Linked DNA regions of Homo sapiens: region 2 is linked to region 1. The links come from fine-mapping of genetic effects on gene expression. Tissue or cell type: whole blood. Region 1 holds a variant in brackets; the other region holds the start of a gene. All regions are shown on one strand. Distances are between the middles of the regions.

Region 1 (2,500 bases):
AATTTCATATACATCTTATGCATTAGAATTATATAATTTATTGGGTCATGATGTAAAATGTATTTCTAACTTTGAGTCAAAGTCAAACTTCTTTACCAAAAGCAAACCCTCTCCAGTTGTCACAGTTTAAAACTCCATGGCAGGCGCAGGCATGGTCTCTCTCTGCCGTATACCCAGTATCTGGCACACAAAAGGTGCTCCACAAAGTCACTGAAAGTTGTTTACAGATGAAAAATGCTTTAGGCTTCAGGAAGGTGCTCGAAGAGGTATTGCGGTGTGAGGCAAAGCACGGTTCAAGGTTTGGTGCACTTCTGTAGCTTTGGGCAAGCCATCCCTAGGCCTGAGTGTTCTCAGCTGTGGTGAAAACCACTTCCAAGGCCCTTTCCAACCCTAAGGTTCAGAGACTGCTCCTGGGCTAACAAAAATTTGCTAAATTCTGACCTCTAGTGGCTGTGTCCACTCATTACTCCTTCCAACTGGGATTGCTGGCATCTATACTTCCAGGCTGTTTCTTCAACATTCACTCCATAGACTTCCTGAACACCTACTATGTGTGCATTGCTGAGCAAGGAGGAGCAAGTAGAGCTTGGCAGACCTGGAGCTGCCACTGGAGTCCACCACACCAGAATTCAAGCCCTGGCTCTACAACTGGGACAAAGTCACTCCCGGGAACAAAACCACTTCCTTCTCAGGGTGGCTGTGTGGATGAGAGACCAGGGGGAACTACTATGATTTGGTTCATCATATCCGTAATCCAAGAAGATGAATGTAACTTAGTTCCTGCTCTAGAAAAGCTTCATCCCTTCCCAAGAAGAAAAGCCTCTCAAGGAGGAAGAGCTGACCAGCAAGCAAGGATAGGTTTGATGATGGAGGGTGAGGGGCTCCAACCACACAGACCTGCACACGGTAGGGAGGAGCAGAGGGAATTTAGTGCTGCTCAGCTTTTAGTTTCTGCAAGGCCTGGATGCTTGGACCCAGGGCTCAAGGTGACTTACAGGCATCCATGGGGCCCAAAGCAGTGATGCTGACTGTCTCAGAGGCCTTCAACTATTTAGTCAGAAAGGCTGTTCTGCTGAGGGTTATCTGGTGAGGCTGTTCAAAAGTGATCTCCAGTCACTTCGGTAATGTGAACTTAGACTCCTCTCTATTTTTAATTTTTATTTTTTGTAGAGACAGGGTCTTGCTATGTTGCCCAGGCTGGTCTCGAACTCCTGGCCTAAGCAATCCTCCCAAGCATTGGGATTATGGGAGTGAGCCACTGTGCCTGGCCTTAGATTCTTCTCTAAGTGAGAAATTATTATAAAACAGTAAAAGTAGGAAAGGCCAGCAAGGAGCTCCCCAGGGGTTAGTACAATTACATAATTCGACTCTTCTGGAACAAACCCACAAGCCGAAGCAGACTTTTCTGAAAAGTGTTTGCCTGGCAGACATAGTTATCTTATGACGGATCACTATGAGCGGTGATAACTGCGCCTTATATTTTCCCAAGAACTTTCACATGTAGCCTGATTCATACTATACCCCATCATACCTCCACCAGAAACCAC[A/G]AAGGCTAATGTTCTAGAGACCCAAATGACATAAAGATACATTTCAGATATAACCTACTACTATAACTACAAAAGGTTAAACTTCTTTAAGTCTTTTTTAAAAGTTTGTCTTAAGTTTAAAAAAAAAATCCTCCAGTATAAGTAGTGTTATATGGTACTCAGTTTCTACCAAAAGCAGCAGTTCTCTCCAGCTCTGGGATAGTAAAAAATGAACCTGAGCTAAATACATGGGAGATTTTTGAAAAGCTAATGGTATAAAGTAACATTTAGTGAAAGGCTGCCATTTTGGAACTCATCAAATGTTAATTTTCTTCGGTGTGAAATGATTTGGTGATCAAATAGGAGAATTTCTGCATGCTTAGCAAATACAAACTGAAGTTTTTAGTCAATCTAGGTGAAGGGTATATCGGTGTTTATTGTACCAGTCTTTTAATTTTTTTTTTTTTGATAAATTGGAATATTTTCAGAGTAAAAAGTTAGAGATAAAAAGACATGTTCAACATAGAGCTCTTTTGGATAATTTGCCATTGTTGTACCCATACTGAAAGCCAAAATCCAGATTTTGTCAACTTTACTCCAACAATAATACAGCAAAATCCACATACAGATTCTATCTGAAACTGCCTCCTTCCAGATCAATATTAAACCAAGTAGAGGGTGAGCCTTCAGGCCTGCAGGCTAGAGAATTAGGGGTTACCACTTGTGCCATTAGGAAAGAGAACTTCATTTTTATTTAATACTTTTTGGATCATAATTATGCACTGAGTACTCTTCTAACTTTCTAAATGCCAATTCATTTACTTCTTATAAAAACCCATCTTGTAGGTACTATTATTATCCCCACTTTGCATTTAAAGAACCCAAGGCACTTGCCCAACATTACACAGCTAGCAAGTGGCAAAGCCGGGATTCAAACCTAGGCAAGGTGGCTCCAGAGCACAGCTCCTCACAAT
Region 2 (3,023 bases), 33 kb after region 1:
AATATTTTGATTCTGCTTAATTCAAAAGAAAACAAACCCCCTTTACATATCAGGAATCAAAAGATTCCATTACACAGGGTTAAGCTCCATTTTTACAAAGAAACCCAGACTTTGCAGAAGGTGAGTCACATGCCCGGACCAGGTAAGTGGCACATTTAGGAAAGGAGCCAGGCCTAGGAATATCTGGCCCAGCGATCTCTCCAACAGGAGCAGGGCCAAAGAAAAACAAATGAGCATTTTTAAGCATGAAAGACCCTAAATGGAGGTAAAAACCCCAGTACAAAAGTTACTCCCCCAAACACCTACTAAAAAAAAAAAAAAAAAAAAAAAGATTTAGACTGTTTTTTTTACCTTGCAAATAAATGAACTCATGCGAAGGTCCAGGCTAGGTCCCTTTCAAAGCCTGCAGCAGGGAAGGCTCTCCTAAAAGCCTCTAATCCCAGCTTTCTGAGACTTTGGGAAAGGGTGGCAGATGCAGCCCAGGGCATCCCAGGGTGGCTAGCCACATACCTGGCACCTGGCGGGACTCCTTCATGTCCAGGATATCCCTGATGTAGAGTTTTGCAAAGGCTAGAAACACAGGATCCAAACCCCACAAGAGGGAAGGGGTCTCCTCTTCACACCGGCTGGATCCAGGCTGCATCAAGAGGCAGGGCTGTGGCTTCCAGCTAACTCTGAAAGGTTCTGCATCACTGAGTCAAGCATCTAGATGGGACACAGAAATGAGGATGCAATGCGTTTAACGTGGGTCAAAGTGGCACGGCCCTGACGCTGCTCCCAGGTGGGCGTCCAGGACTCCAGGAGGGGTGAACGCAGGGATCCAGGGCCCTGTCAAACTCCATGCCACGGGGCGTGTTAAGAGGCGTTCCTCACGTCAGGACGCCTGCGTTCCTTACGGCTCTCCCGCTGTTCTCCTTCCCACAAAGCACCAACTTCGGAACGGCTAAACATCAACTTTCACTCTGGGAAGATACGTCTGTACAGGCGTAGCAGAAACCGCTTGGGGTCCCGGGAGGAACGGGCGCCCTCGCAGCCCTGCACGTGTTGGGGCATAGTGGATGGGTCTGACTGTCGCTCTGCCCTAAACTTTCCGCTTTTGGGGATGAGCCAAGAAAAGGAGGAAAAAAGATACTAAAAAATGGACCCACTTGTAGCCCCTCCCGCCGCCTGCAGCTCCAGGAGCCCTGAGACCTGGCCCTTCCGGCGCTCGGAGCCGCTGGCGGCGACGACCCCGCCCGGCGCAGGAGCAGTTGGCTGAGGTCGTCTCTGGAGTTCCGGCCTGAGCCCGCCCCCTGCCCCGCCAGGGACCAACCCCGGTCTCCCCGCCAGCGCATTTCCTTTCTGCTGCAGCGCCTCGCCACGGCTCCGCCCCATCTCTCCCGAAGTCCCGCCTCATCCCACCCAGACCCCACCCATCCCGCCGCGGCCACGCCCCATCCTGCCCGAAGCCCCGCCCCATCCCGCCCGAAGCCCCGCCCCATCCCGCCGCGGCCCAACCATCCGCTAGGCCCCATCCAGCCGAAGTCCAGCCCGTTCCGTGCCCCGCCTCAGCGCAGCGTACTTTTGGTTCAGGCAGCGCTGCAGCCCCGCCTTCGTGCTAGCCTCCACCGCTGAGGCCTAGGAGGCGACCTTGAAATTCCTGCAGTTCTAACGCCGCTCTTCTAGTCACCTTTCACCCCTCCTCCTGCTGGTGGCGGGACCCTGAACCTGGGCCTCCTAGAGGTTGGGTCAGGATCAGACTATTTTTCTTTTTGATTCCTGATATGTAAAACAGATAAAAAGTAAGCAGTGCCACGAGTGCATTGTGGCATATTTTAAATGTTCATTTACAGTTGGTAAGTGACCTGACTCACACACTTAGGACTCTAGTTTCACTTGGAGATGTCAATATCTAAATTTGAGCCCTCGAGTGAATGTGAGGTCTTGACTCTGCCAGAGACTAGCCGTGCAAAATCATGACAATACATTTTGTCTCCTTTACCCTTGTTCGGTCTACAGTCTGGAAGGTTGTACACTTAAGAACTTTGAAAAGCTGGCATTTTGGTAAATCATGGCCACCTTGATGGTGCTTAGTCTCCAGAATTTCTATTTTAAAGTGAGGAAAGATAGCCACGTTCCACTCCCATAAAGAGCTACGTTACCCGAGACGTCAGGAATTCTTCCTAATTTACAGAGACTCTGGAAAATGGCAGGGGAGTACAGATCACCCTGGCAGACCATTCCCGGGGGAGGCAGGTGGTGGCCAAAGAGATAATTGCTAAACTATTTATCAGAGAAGGAACTTGGAGCCGCTGGAATGGAAAGTGTGTGTGTCATTAGACCCATGGCATTTAATTACCTCCCCGGCCATTTAAGAAGCTCAAAAACAAGAGTCCTTGGTAAAATACATTGCCCAGATTCTACTGCAATGAACACTAGGAAATGTAGGGTTTAAGATTTAATTAAGAGAAGACACTGGCTGGGCGCGGTGGCTCACACCTGTAATCCCAACATTTTGTGAGGCCGAGGCGGGCAGATCACGAGGTCAGGAGTTCAAGACCAGGCAGGCCAATATACGGAAACCAACCCCCTCTCTACTAAAAATACAAAAATAGCCAAATGTGGTGGCGTGCGCCTGTAATCCCAGCTACTCGGGAGGCTGAGGCAGGAGAATCGCATGAACCTGGGAGACAGCGGTTGCAGTGAGCTGAGATCGGGCCATTGCACTCCAGCCTGGGTGACAGTGTGAGACTCTGCCTCAATTAAAAAAAAAAAAAAAAAAAGAGAGAGAGAGAAGATACCTTCTCTTATAGGAGGAAGGCCCTTGCAAAGAAAACACACCCAGTAGGACAGGTGCTTCCTGCTGACCTGTCAGATGGGGAGAGACAGGTTGAGTGACATTTTCCTGACTGTACACATCTGCTCCAGGGTGAAACCCAAAGGAGGAAATCACTACTAAGTGTCAGAGCCTGAGATGATTTCAGGAATAATGCTCATGGCGCTCAAGGGTAGAGTGTTGGATAAAAGAGCCCTCCTGGACTCCA

The links.
Region 2: STN1 starts here. The variant in region 1 is fine-mapped to the expression of STN1 in whole blood (TOPMed, PIP above 0.99).

Annotation. Positions count from the first base shown.
Region 1 is chr10:103,884,420-103,886,919 of GRCh38, forward strand. The region is part of intron 9 of STN1 (STN1 subunit of CST complex); the gene reads right to left. Among named protein-coding and RNA genes, the nearest start is that of SH3PXD2A, 30 kb to the left of the region's middle. The variant A/G (reference allele first, on the strand shown) is at 1,548.
Region 2 is chr10:103,916,952-103,919,974 of GRCh38, forward strand. It overlaps STN1 (STN1 subunit of CST complex), which reads right to left and starts at 1,233. Exons shown (of 10, transcript NM_024928.5): 1 at 1,149-1,233; 2 at 511-705. The coding sequence starts at 643. RefSeq lists enhancers at 695-1,024, 884-1,529, 1,160-1,454 and a silencer at 1,195-1,544.